2 linked regions of the Homo sapiens genome follow. The protein of the gene in region 1 purifies or fractionates together with the protein of each later gene. This does not show direct contact. Each region holds a gene or a part of one and is shown in the gene's direction. Other genes may lie near its edges.

The links. The genes of interacting proteins can lie anywhere in the genome.
Region 2: the proteins of BOLA1 (region 1) and CIAPIN1 purify together in Homo sapiens (affinity purification with mass spectrometry; 3 studies listed by BioGRID and IntAct, with this or other methods). This does not show direct contact.

What each region holds. Positions count from the first base shown.
Region 1 is NC_000001.11:149,894,623-149,901,548, forward strand, and holds BOLA1 (bolA-like protein 1), read left to right. Parts: upstream 1-4,945; 5' UTR 4,946-5,050; exon of another isoform or gene 5,051-5,108; intron 5,109-5,220; exon of another isoform or gene 5,221-5,387; 5' UTR 5,388-5,437; coding exon 5,438-5,851; 3' UTR 5,852-6,173; downstream 6,174-6,926. UniProt on the Homo sapiens protein: Acts as a mitochondrial iron-sulfur (Fe-S) cluster assembly factor that facilitates (Fe-S) cluster insertion into a subset of mitochondrial proteins. Probably acts together with the monothiol glutaredoxin GLRX5. May protect cells against oxidative stress.
Region 2 is NC_000016.10:57,444,386-57,451,636, reverse strand, and holds the start of CIAPIN1 (anamorsin), read left to right. Parts: upstream 1-4,251; 5' UTR 4,252-4,295; intron 4,296-7,251. Other genes in the region: COQ9 (ubiquinone biosynthesis protein COQ9, mitochondrial precursor), read right to left, coding at 429-597, 4,059-4,131. UniProt on the Homo sapiens protein: Component of the cytosolic iron-sulfur (Fe-S) protein assembly (CIA) machinery required for the maturation of extramitochondrial Fe-S proteins.

The sequences.
Region 1 (6,926 bases):
TTTTCTCACTGTACACTCTCTCCCCAGGTGATCACATACCACACCCCAGCCCCACCCCCATGATCTCATTTCATCTTCAACAACCCCTAACTAAGAGATGTCTCAAATATACTTCTCACATGCTAAAATTAGTGGGAAAAAACTTAATGAGAATTAGGAAAGTAGATACACTTAGAGTATCTTCCACAATTACAGACAGAAAAGGAATTTTATAGTGGAAAAGCCTGACAGATACCATCTTAATCAAGTGATCAGAACTATCACTAGTAATAACAAAAAGATCACGTGCCCTGGTAAGGTTCACAGAGAAGAATTCAACATTACTTCTGCAGTATTCCAGCCAAAAATGCATGTGCTAAATTTTAATCATAAAGAAACATCAGACAAACCCAGATTGAGGGACATTCTACAAAATAAATGTCTGTAACTTCAAAATTACCAAAGTCATGAAAGACAAAGAAAATCTAGGAAACTATTTCAAGTTAATGGAGAACAAAGAAATATAACAACTGAATGCAACACGTCATCCTAGATTGGATCCTGGACCAGAAGATATTTCTTTTCATTTTATATATATGATAGTAGTGGAACAATTGGCAAATTTTGAATAAGGTCTGTAGATTAGATAATAGTACCGTATCTGTGTTCATTTCTAGAGTCTGACAGTTATATTCCGGCTATGTGAGAAAATTTTTTTTTTTAAGTAAATATACATCAGTCAGGATTCTCCAGGGAAACAGAACGAATGGTAGATATTTTGATAGATAGTTTTATTATAAAAAATTGGCTTTTTGATTATGGAAGCTAATAAATCCCAAGATCCCCAAGATCTTCAGGGTAAGTTGGCAAGCTGGAGACCCAGGAGAACTGATGATATAGTTCCAGTCCAAGTTCAAAGGCCTGAGAACCAATGGTGTAGTTCCAGTCCAAAGGCCGAGTCTAAGACCCAGATGGAGCCAGTGTTTACTTCTGAGTCTGAAGGCTGAGAAAAGCCAATGTCCGGGTCTCAAAGCAGTCAGGCAGAAGGAAGTCTCTCTTACTCCGGAGTGGGTCAGTCTTTTGTTCTAGTCAAGCTTTCAACTGGTTGGATGGGACCCACCTATATTAGGGAGGGCAATTTACTCAGTCTCCAATTCAAATGTTAATCTCATTCAAAATACTCTCACAGAAGCACCCATATTTGGCCAAATATCTGAGCACCAATCCTCTAGAAGTTGGGACATTAACCATCACAGGCCGTGCGTGGTGGCTCACGCCTCTAATCCCAGCACTTTGGGAGGCTGAGGTGGGTGGATCACCTGAGGTCAGGAGTTTGAGACCAGCCTGGCCAACATGGTGAAACCCCCCTCTCCACTAAAAATACAAAAATTAGCCAGGCGCCATTGTCCACGCCTGTAATCCCAGCTACTCAGGAGGCGGAGGCACAAGAATCACTTGAACCCAGGAGACAGAGGTTGCAGTAAGCCAAGATTGCATCACTGCACTCCAGCCTGGGCGACAGAGTGAGACTCCATCTCAAAAAAAAAAAAAAAGTTAACCATCACAGGTAGAGTTTAATAGGCTTTATCTCTGAAACTTAGTCTCAAACAGTCCAGAAAATAATTATATATTTGTAGATAGGTACATACAAATAAAACAAACAGTGAATTGTTAATATTTGGGTAATCTAGGTATCAGGATAAAGGATATACAGGAATTATTTGAACTGTTTTTTTTAACTTTAGATGCACAAACCTTGTAATTATCCTTGACACTTTCCCTCCCACAACCAAGCCATTACCACACCCTGTAGGTTTTACTTTCCTAATATACATCCTGTAGCCACAATTTCTCTCCATTTCCACCACCACCACCACCACCTTGGTCCAAATCATCATCATCTCTCACCTAGACTGCTACAGTAACCTCCCAACTTGTCTCCCTGTTTCCACTCTTGCCTCCTCTACAATCCATTCTCCACCCTGAAGCCAGTGATCTTTGCAGAATACAAACTTAAAGTCAGCTAAATGCAATGCATGATCCTTGATTGGTTTCTGAAAATTAAACATTTATAATGTTTACTTAGACTGTGCTGCTATTACAAAATACCACTGACTGGGTAATTTATAAACAGAAATGTATTTTCTCACAGTTCTGGAGGCTGGGAAGTCCAAGATTACGGCACTGGCAGGTTTGGTATCTAGTGAAGGCCAGTTCCTCATAGATACGCCATCGAGGTGACCTTACATGGCAGAAGGGACAGAAGGGGCCAACTTACCCCCTCAAGCTCTTTCAAAAGGCGTTAGTCCATTCTTGAGGGTGGAGCCCTCATAGCCTTATTACCTCCTAAAGGCCCCACCACTTAATACCAACACCATGGATTAATTTTCAACATGAATTCTGGAGGAGACATATTCAAACTATAGTAGACACCAATGAGACAGTTGGGGAAATCTGAATATCAACTGTATGTGATTATAGTATTGTATGAATGTTAAATGTCTTGGATGTGGTAATGGTATTGTGGATATGTATGAAAATGTCCTTGTTCTTAGGAGATACACATTGAAAGTACATAGCAATTAAGTGTAAAGAATTTTGTGGGGCCAGGCGCAGTGGCTCACGCCTATAATCCCAGCATTTTGGGAGGCCGAGGCGGACTGATGACCTGAGTCAAGACCAGCCTGACCAACATGGAGAAACCCCGTCTCCACTAAAAACACAAAATTAGCCAGAGTGGTGGCGCACGCCTGTAATCCCAGCTACATGGGAGGCTGAGGCAAGCAAATCGCTTGAACCCAGGAGGCGGAGGTTGCTGTGAGCCAAGATCGCACCATTGCACTCCAGCCTAGGCAACAAGAGCGAAACTCCATCTCAAAAAAAAAAAAAAGAATTTTGTGGCTGGGTGCAGTGGCTCACGCCTGTAATCCCATCACTTTGGGAGGCTGAGGCAGGCAGATCACTTGAGGTCAGGAGTTCCAGAGCAGGAGGATCACTTGAGGTCAGGAGTTCCAGACCAGCCTGGCCAACATGGTGAAACCCCATCTCTACTAGAAATGCAAAAAAATTTAGCCAGGTATGGTGGCACCAGCCTGTAGTCCCAGCTACTCAGGAGGCTGAGGCAGGAGAATCACTTGAACCCAGAAGGTGGAGGTTGCAGTGGGCCAAGATGGCGCCACTGCACTCCAGTCTGGGCAACAGAGTGAGACTCTGTTTAAAAAAAAAAAAAAAAAGAATTTTGGGCCAGGCGCAGTGGCTCACGCCTGTAATCCCTGTAATCCTGGGTGGCCGAGGAGGGTGGATCACCTGAGGTTGGGAGTTCCAGACCAGCCTGATCAACATGGAGAAACCCCGTCTCTACTAAAAATACAAAATTAGCCGGGCATGTTGGCACATGCCTGTAATCCCAGCTAATCAGGAGGCTGAGGCAGGAGACTTGCTTGAACCCAGGAGGCAGAGGTTGCAGTGAGCCAAGATCACGCCATTGCACTCCAGCCTGGGCAAGAAGAGCAAAACTCCATCTCAAAAAAAAATAAATAAATAAGATTTCTGCACCTAACTCAAGTGATTCAGCAGAAATAATTATTATTATTTCATTATTATTATACACACATACATTAAAAGAGATACAAAGCCAAGTCTGGCAAAATCTTATCAGTGAACCTAGGTGAAGAGTGGATAAATGGGTTGCTCATTGTATTAATCTTGCAAATTTTCTGGAAGTTTTAATTTTTTTTAAAGGCTAGGGAAAACAGTGTATGTCATAGTTTAAATTTCTTGAGTGTGATAAGGTTATTGTGGTTATGTATGAGAATATCTTTGTTCTTAGGAGATACATATTGGAGTAGTTAGGGGTGAAATGTCATGCTATCTGCAACTTACTTTCAAATGGTTCATCCAAAAAAGCATATAAATATATTTTAAAGTATATGTAAAGTACTTAAATATATGAGTATATATGTACAAGTATAAAATAAATATAAATGCAAAAAATGGTGGGTCAAGTGAAAGGTAGAGGGTGTTGCTTTGAACTATTCAACTTTTCTGTGGCTTTGACATTTTTCAAAATGAGAAGTTGGGGAAAAACATTTAGAAATATGTAAATATATTAAGGATACAAAATAAAATTTAAATAATTTTACAAGTTAAGAATCATCCTGGAAAAATTACATCCTGTTACATCCCTGCTTAAAACCTCAGTAGCTTCCCACTACTTCTAGGATAAAGACAAAATTGCCTAACAAGGGCTACAAGGCCTGGGGTGGTCTGGCCCGTTCCTCTCCTCCTGGTACCCTACTCATCACCATCAGCTGCCCCCTAGGCTCCAACCACACATAACCACACCCTAACTACACCAGAAGGAAAGACTCCCTCAAAATTCTCTCTCCTCCTGTCCTTTACACATGCAGCTACCAAAGCCAAAACCTCACTATGAGGGACTGAGAAATGGATTCTCATGTTGTTTCTGCTGAACTGTTTCCCTAAATCTCGGAAATATTCTCTGCCCGCCTCCCATTCCACCTCTCCAACCCCGGCCAAGTCTGGGTAACTTGCCTCCTTAGCATCCTGTGTTTATCTCATCGTAGCACCTAGTACCCAGTATTGCAATTGTCCGCTCACTTGTTAGTCTTCAGTGCTCTGTTGTCTCCTTGAAAACAGGGCCTGACTTGACTCCCCAGTCCCCAGCACTAGTCTGGGGCACAGTAATTATGTATTCAATCAGACTTCCATTTTCTTGCATATAAAATAAAGGAGTTGGGCTGGATGATCTACAAGATCTATTGGCAGTAAAATAGATCTAATAATCCCAATCCCAACTGCGCGTGAATTCCCTTTTTCTTTGCATTGCTGGGTTCAGACTTTCTGACCACCTTACCAGTGGGGAGAATCCGAGACTACAGTTCCCATGAGCCCTCAGGGCACCACGTGGTGCCTGCCCGTGCTACCAACGCGCAGCGAGGACTCCATTTCCCAGCGTGCCTCAGGAAGGGCGCCAGGACTGCATTTTGCTCCGGAGCGTCCAGAGTCCTGGCCCTGAGCGGGAATCGCAGTGGCCGAGGCTGAGCGGCAGGTAGAAGGGGCGTCTCCGGGGCTTCACAGGGAACACAGGGGCTTCGGCCCAACCACAAGTACGCAGTTGCACATGCCCTACTTTTGCCCATTCTTTGCAAATCCCCTAAGGAACGAACGCGCCTCGCGTGCGGGCCTTTCTAATCTTCGCTTGTCCCTTCACTTCCACAGCTGGAGGTCGAATTCACCACGTCACGTAGAGAAAAGGGGCGGTGTCTCGGGTCTCCCCGTGTGGCATCAAGGCGGGCTCCCTATAGGAGCTGGTGTGGACGTCCGGGCGTGGGGTTAGGGCGGATGCGGGGATCGCGGGGCGGGTGTTGACATTGTGCTCTCACCAGGCGGATCGCCCCGACCCTCACTCCTGGCGTCTGAGTCTCTGGCGTAGCCCATGCTGAGTGGGCGGCTGGTCCTGGGTCTGGTCTCCATGGCTGGCCGCGTTTGTTTGTGCCAGGGCAGCGCGGGATCCGGGGCCATCGGTCCGGTGGAGGCCGCCATTCGCACGAAGTTGGAGGAGGCCCTGAGCCCCGAGGTGCTAGAGCTTCGCAACGAGAGCGGTGGCCACGCGGTCCCGCCTGGCAGTGAGACTCACTTCCGCGTGGCTGTGGTGAGCTCTCGTTTCGAGGGACTGAGCCCCCTACAACGACACCGGCTGGTCCACGCAGCGCTGGCCGAGGAGCTGGGAGGTCCGGTCCATGCGCTGGCCATCCAGGCACGGACCCCCGCCCAGTGGAGAGAGAACTCTCAGCTGGACACTAGCCCCCCATGCCTGGGTGGGAACAAGAAAACTCTAGGAACCCCCTGAACCCCAAGAGAGGGAGGACCAGGATCCGAATGGGCTGGGTGAGCACGAATTACCGAGGCCTTCCCTTTGATACAGTCCAGGATTTGTAAGGGATGAAGACCCCTGGGCCCCATTCTGTTGGGGTCCATACATACTCTCCGAAGATAGCAACTTGCTTCAGGTCAAAGTGAACCCGAGAAAAGAGAAGAATCACTCACTACTGCTCTTGCCCTGGACTATTCAGGAAGGGCAGCCCGGATGTTCCATGTTAAATCGTGACAGAATTGCACCAGACCTGATGAGTTGGAAACAATCCTATACATTAAAAGAAATTACACTATGAGGCTGTGTTCTTAATGGACTGCTGAATCAGTGCCACAGGTGTTCTTGGGAGAAGAAAGATACTTGTAGACTAGTCGGGAAGGGCTTTATGAGGGAAGTGATCTAGTTGGATCTTTAAAGGAAAGCACAAAATTAACCAGAAAGGAGAGGATAGGTGCTGCAGGCAGGGAGAAGAACCTGAGCAAAGACATAGACGCTGGACTGAGAAGTGAGTTAATGGACAAGACAGGGGATATAGGCAGGGACACATTTGAATTTCATCTTGAGGGGGGGAATGTTTGGCTTTTTTACAGCCTGTTCATTTCCAAAAAGTAGTATTTGTATTTGTTTAAAAGAAAAATGTTTTTAAAAACCACTAAAGCAGTGAAAAGAGGATAAGAACTAAGAAAATGATTACAGATGATGAAGAAACCTTTATATAGCCTTTTTTTTCTTTTCTTTTCTTTTCTTTTTTTTTTTTGAGATGGAGTTTCGCTCTTGTTGCCCAGGCTGCAGTGCAATGGCACGATCTCGGCTCACTGCCATCTCCGCCTCCTGGGTTCAAGCGATTCTTCTGCCTCAGCCTCCCCAGTAGCTGGGATTACAGGCATGCACCACCACACCCAGCTATTTTTTTGTATTTTTAGTAGAGATGGGGTTTCACCATGTTGACCAGGATGGTCTCAAACTCCTGACCTCAGGTGATCCTCCTGCCTCAGCCTCCCAAAATGCTGGGATTACAGGCGTGAGCCACTACCCGTAGCGTTTTTGTTTT
Region 2 (7,251 bases), on another chromosome or scaffold:
AGAAACATCTAAAAGGATATTCACAAAAATGTTAGCAGGGTTATCTCTGTAATTTTGGATAAAACTGCTTTATTTTTGTGAACTTCTCTATACTGTTTAGGTGTTTTAGAACAAACAGGCACCAATTTTATAAAAACAATAGGTTCTTTCCTAAGACAGCCTTGTGGCTGGGTGCAGTGGCTCACACCTGTAATCCCAACACTTTGGGAGATCTAGGCGGAGGACAGCTTGAAATCTAGGAGTTTGAGACCAGTCTGGTCAACGTAGCGAGAAGCCATCACTACAAAAAATAAAAAATTCTAAAAAACAAAGATGGCCTTGGAAATGAAGGAAGGTACAAAAGGGGATGGAGAGGAGAGAGGAAGTGAAGGAGGAACAGACATAATGAAGCATATGAAGTGGCCAGAAATAGGTGGATTGGTGCCTACCTGGGGGGTGAATGAGAAGACTCTGGATCAGGTTTTTCTGCCCCCTGTGTCTCAGAATGCTGCTGAGAAAATGAGTTGGGAGGCTGCTGCTTCTGCTCATCTGAAGACCTTAGCCCCACAGCTGAAGCATGGAAGGCACGCGGCACCAGGGCTTGTCGGCAACGGGCCACTGAAACAGAAACTGGTCAGTCAGGGACATTCAACAGAGAAGACCCTTTCAGACCCAGAGTGGTAACACAGATAAGGAGGAGGAAAAGCAGGCCAGAGACTCCTGTAGAACCACTTATCCAAGTGTTGGGTCCCACACAAAAATATTGGGTAAACTGGGAACTTTGGGACACGAAGTGGTAGCAAAAGTGGTAAGCCAGGAAAAATGATCTACCTAGCATCTTGACCTGTTTCTACCACTTGTTACCTGGGTAACTGGCAAACAATTTCACCCCAATGTGCAGATTTTTAAATCTGCAAATTTAGAGTAATAATCTCTACTTGCTCAATGAGAGCACTGTGTGGCCCAAACAAAAAGTAAAAGTGGCTTGCAAATGTTACAGATTTATATATATTATGGCAAGAGCTCTGGAATAGTAATTTAATGTCTCAGCCCTACTCCCCCAGTGTTTATATGGTATCTTTGGACAAGTCACTAATCTCTATCTGCTTTCTCATCTGCAATATCTGCAACATCTCCATTTACTTTAAGAAAGATGAGAAGTATGTTTCCTAAGCATAAACTCATAGTATTTTTTATTTCCCAACATTTTTTATTCTAAAAATTTTCTTTTTTTTTTTTTTTTTTGTCAGAGTCTCACTCTGTCGGCCAAGCTGGAGTGCAGTGAGATTATCTCGGCTCACTGCAACCTCTGCCTCCCAGGCTCAAGTGATTCTCGTGCCTCAGCCTCCCGAGTAGCTGGGATCACAGGCACCCGCCACCACTCTCAGGCTCACTTTTGTATTTTTAGTAGAGACGGAGTTTCGCCATGTTGGCCAGGCTGGTCTCAAACTCCTGACCTCAAGTGATCGCCCGTCTTGGCCTCCCAAAGTGCTAGGATTACAGGCGTGAGCCATCATGCCCAGCCTATTATAAAAATTTTCAAACACGCAAATTGAAAGAATTATGGAATGAACACCTGTATATCTGCCACTAGGTTCAACACATCTGTCATGTTCTTCATTCATCCATCTTGATTTTCAGTGCATTTGTTGCAGATATCAGTATTATTCACCTCTAAACATTTTAGCATCAAAGACTTCTACGTTCACTGTTTTGTTATTCAGATGCCATTTACACACAATGAAATGCATAAATCTTAAGTGTACCATTCTATGAGTTTTGACAAATGTATACACTTGCACAACCTAAACCCAATCTAAACAGAGAACATTACTGTCACCCCAGAAAGTTCCCTTATGCCTTTTCAGTCATTCCCCATTCATACTGTTCTGAATTTTTCACTCTAGGTTAGTTTTTGCTTGTCTTAGTTTTGCCTGTCCTAAGATTTCATCTATATGTACATGTTTCAGTAAAGCTTCTTTCACTTAGGACTATATATGTGTGTGTATATATATATATTTATTTATTTTAAGTTTAAATAGAGACAGAGTCTTGCTATGTTGCCCAAGATGGTCTTGAACTCCTCGGCTCAAGCAACCCTCCCACCTCAGCTTCCCAAAGTGCTGGGATTACAGGTGTGAGCCACCACACCTGGACCACTTAGTATATTTTTGAGATTGATCCATATTTTTATGCCTATCAGTATATCTGGCAAAGATTCTCTCCTTGATCAGGCTCTAACCAGGCTCCTCTGAGCCCTCTTCTTATCTAGGCCTCAACCTTGGCCTATAAAGACTTGAACACACACTAACATAAGCATCACTCAGGGCCACATCCCTTAAGATAACCCTACCCCCCTTTAAAGTGCCTGCCTGAGAAAACTCAAGGCTGTCAAAAAAAATTTTACTGTTTGTTCAGGCTAACACTTAAGAAGGATAGGGCTTGTCTCCCTGTGGGAAAACAGAATCCTAACTTTGTTAACTGCCAGCTAGCAGACCAATCTTATTTATAATTATTCACTATCCTGACTCTACTGAGTCCCCACCTGCCTTCCTCCCTCCTCCCTCATTTTTTCTTTGAAACACCCAGTGACTTCTGCATGCTCTAAACTCAAGGTTGGGCTCCGTTCATGCTAGACTCTTTTCCCTATTGCAATAGTTATTACTGATTAAAAATGGTCCTTATCACTTTAGTGTCCAGCTTTCTCTTTGACTGATTTTTAGTTTTTATTGCAGAATAGTATTCCATAAAAAAAATACTATTCTGTTGCTAGACAACTGGACTGTTTCTGTGTTTGGCTACTATGAATAAAATTGCTATGAATATACTTGTACTAACTTTTTTGTAGACACATACCTTCATTTCTCTTGGTGGATTTGCGGGGTCATAGACATTACTTTTACTACACATCTTTAGTTTGGAATTTTGTATAAATACAACAAAAGGGGGCTAGGCGGTGGCTCATACCTGTAATCCCAACACTTTGGGAGGCTGAGGCAGGCAGATAACTTGAGGTCAGGAGTTTTGGACTAGCCTGGCCAACATGGTGAAACCCCGTCTACTAAAAATAAAAAATTAGCTGGGCATGGTGGCACAACCCCAGCTACTAGGAAGGCTGAGGCAGGAGAATCACTTGAACCCAGGAGGTAGAGGCTGCAGTGAGCCGAGATTGTACCACTGCACTCCAGCCTGGGTGACAGAGTGAGACTCTGTCTCAACAACAAAATTAAGCCAAGTAGGGTGGCACGCACTTGTAGTCCCAGCTCCTTGGGAGGCTGAGGAGCCAGACCCTGTCTCAGAAAAAAAAAAAAAAGAAAAAAAAGAAACAGAATAGTATGTGCCAAAATATCAATATTTTAATACATGTACTGAAAGATACGGCACAAATATCCGCAAAACTTTGAAAAGGAAGGAGCAGATGCAAAGTATGACTGTAGTACCACTGAGGGTCATGAGAAGATTTTAGGTGAAATACAGGTGAACGTTTCATCAGTTATGTATGTATGCTAAAGTGTTAATGCATACGTTCTAATTAAGGAAGGCGATATTAGTTTTCCATTTATGACAATGATATAAAGTTTCCTCTTTAAGAACTCCTATTTAAAAATAAAAATACTGAGTACATAGTGGCAAAGGTGGTAAGAGAGTATCACAGAATTCGTGAAGTGGTGAGGAAACGGCTGGCTTTCGGGAAACAATGGACTAGGCTCTCTGTGGCCGTGTCCACCTGTCCTTCCAGTGGACTTGGCAATGGACTTGAGAATGGGTCTGCGACTGCCAGTTCTGTAACCAACAGGCTCAGGCTGCGTGACTTTCGTACCCCGAGCCCTCTCTGAGGCTCTGCCAACTCCATGAAATGGGGGTGACAGGCCCTGCCCCGCTGCATCTGCCCCTCACAGACAGCGGAGCAGGGCCGAAGCTAGCCAGGCGGCTCGCCCGAGCCCGCGCCGATGCCCTTCACCTCACCTTGCTCGTGGGCCGCCCCAACGGCCTCTTCCCCCCACCGTCGAACCCAGCTGAAGCCGGCCTCGCGCCCCCTCCGCGCTCCCCGCCTCTCCCCGGCTTGGCAGCCCCCTCACCGGGCAGGCATCGCAGCTGCAGGAGCCTCCAGCCCGCCCGGCCAAGCGCACCAGATACCGCCGCCGCCGCCATTTTGGAAGCGGGCACGTCGCCCACGGCGACGCGACCGGTAGCTACGGGACCACGGCCCTAAGGAGGGCGGAAGTCGTCGCTCCGTGGAGCCTCCTCCTCTCGCGAGAGGCGCAAGGCGTGGAGTCGACGGCTGGAGAGAAGCCGGGAGCGAGCCCAGGCGGCAGGTGAGAGTGGTGGGGGCCAGCTGAGCGCCAGAGCTCCCTCAACTGTCCCCTCCCGGCCCACCCTCGTTCCCACATCCTCTCATTTTCTCTTCCCACCCCGTTCCTCGATGGGAACGCAGCCACGGCCGCCCCGCTGAAAGCCCCGGCTGGTTTATTCCTGAGAAGTCGGTGTGAGGGGCCAGGGCCGGCCCTAACCTCCCTGGGGTCCTGACTGGGAATTTCTGCCGTTCCCCGGCTGCCTCGTCCCTTGCGCAGCCGGCCCTACTCTGAGGCCCCGGGGACACCACGCTGAGGAGAAACGGCTCCGAGCTTGGGATCGGGGAGACCTGGTTCTGAGACCCGGTCCTACCAGTAGCCAATCGTTGTGACCTTGGGCCTCAGTCCCCGTGACGTTTTGGTCCCTGGGGGTTCCTGGCAGCAAAGCACGAAAGCCTTGGAGTCGGGGGGTACCTGAGCTCACGATTGTAATTTCGAACCTGCAACTTGTCCGAACCCCCAGCGTGTTGAGTTGATATAATTAAGTATCCAGATCGGAAGGATGCTTGTTACTAGAACAGACAGCTAGGCCTTTGTCCAGAAGGATTGATTGAGTGGGTCTGGGTGTGGTCCAGGAATCTCATTTTAACCACTCCCTCGGGTGATTTGTAGGATCTGCAAGTTCGGGAAAGGCTGGTGCCCTTCATTCTGACATTACTGAGTGCCAAGCTCTGGATGGCTCAAGGAGGTCACGGTCTAGCCACTAACAGAGCACTTCACGGGGGTGTCATCAGAGAAGGCTTAGTAGGAAGAAGTAAACGGTTTTTGGGCTAAGAGTAACTGACGACAAGAGCATGTGATTCTGTCGATTTTGTGTTTGCAGTCAGACCCCATCATTGTGTCTGTTAAAGTTGTGCTTTGCACACCCCTTGTCAAATCTAGTCTTTTCAGAATATCCGGCTCCCCCCTGCACGGGTGCGGGGAAGACCTCCTAAGCCAAAACTTACCCCAAAGGTTAAAATTTTAGATCCATATTTCTGGTTTTAGGTAAAACACTCCTCTCCATAAGGATTTGTTTCTGAGTTCTATCCATCCATCTTTGAATGAGCCTTTCCTGTGGAAACTAACATTTGGGTATCCTTTCTGAAACCCTAATTCCTGACACACGCCAAATGCCTGGAGACGTTCCTGTTTCATTGTTGATTCTCACTTTTTAAAAAAAATTCTGGGCCAGGCTCATGCCTGTAATCCCAGCACTTTGGGAGGCTGCGGCGTGTGGATCACTTGAGCTCAGGAGTTCGAGACCAGCCTGGGCAACATGGCGAAACCGCATCTCTACAAAGAATACAAAAATTAGCTGGGTGTGGTGGTGGGTGCCTGTAATCCCAGCTATTTGGGAGGCTGAGGCGGGAGAATCGCTTGAACCCCGGAGTCGGAGGTTGCAGTGAGCCAAGATTGTGCCATTGCACTCCAGCCTGGGCAACAGAGCAAGACTCTGCCAAAAAAAAAAAAAAAAAAAAAAAAAAAAAAACCTCTAAGGTCTTAGTCTAAGTGTCTAGACAGAGCGTTCTCTTGAGGGCAGGGAACAAGTGTCTTCTTGTCTGTCTCCCGTGTAGGGACAGGCACATAGTAGGTTTCTTAGGTCTCATTTGCAGGTTGTAATTGTGCCTTCCTACCATTCTGCTAAAGCTGGCAGGGAAACTGAGGCCCAGAGAGGGGCAATGGCTGACTTGGATTGCACAGCAGGCTGGTTAGGCCCACTTGGTACTGGTCACCCAGAGGCCAGGCAGTGACATGTATGTGCACAAGAGCTTCAGTTAGTTAATTTTATGTTTTTAATTTAATTTTTTTTTATTTTGAGATGGAGTCTCACTCTGTCTCCCTGGCTGGAGTGCAGTGGCAAGATCTTGGTCCACTACAACGTCCGCCTCCTGAGTTCAAGCAATTCTGCCTACCTCAGTCTACCAAGTAGCTGGGATTACAGGTGCACGCCACCATGCCCAGCTAATCTTTGTATTTTTAGTAGAGACGGGTTTTCTCCATGTTGGCCAGGCTGGTCTTGAACTCCTGACCTCAGGTGATCCACTTGCTTCAGCCTCCCAAAGTGTGGGATTACAGGTGTGAGTCACTGCACCCAGCCCAGTTAGTTAATTTTAATTAGGATTTTCCTTTCTGATAACTGTCAGTATTCTTGGAACTCTTTTATGCACCCGAGTTAAAGAATTTTTTGAACTGAAGCCCAAACTTCAGTGTTATTTTTTGCTTTTGTCCCCTTTCACCAGAAGAGAGACCAAATGCCTCAAGATTTGATGCTTACTGGGCACCTAAAAAACAGTCTGTTCTCAGACATCCGCTTTTACTGCCTGCCAGTAACATTTTAGAAGGGCCATGCACATGTGTGTGCCTCAGTCAGAGTTGGAGAGGTACCCAACAAGCTCAGTGACGTGACAATGATGCTACCTCTTATTATGAAACTGGGTCCTGACTCACAGCTTCTAAGCATGTTGTCTTAGATACTGGACACTTTTTCCTTACGGGTTTTTTTGTTTTAAAAGACAAATTCACAACAGCAACATAAAATTCTGATGATGAAAAGTATCACACTTTGGCTTTAGATATTTAAAAGAATATTATCTCCTATTTTATTTGAAAAATGCTGACTGAAAGTAGTGGCTATGCCTGTTTTTTGAGGGTTGATGTTTAATGAATGTAGTTCATAAGCTCCTCTTGCCATAAGATTAGTTTTGGGAGATACGGAACGCAAAGCATTTTACATTCTTCTAATTTACTGACACAGTCCCACTGGAGTACTGTCCAAAGATCATAAAGCGCAGCTCTTACACTAATTCTAACAATGAAAAAGCAGGTTCCCATCACTCCCTGGAGTGTCCTCCTATCAGGCATGGCTAAGGAGAAGCAGGGTTTTATAGGACTGCTTGAAGCAAAGGCAGGTAAACTAGCCACAGAGAAGTGGAAGCCC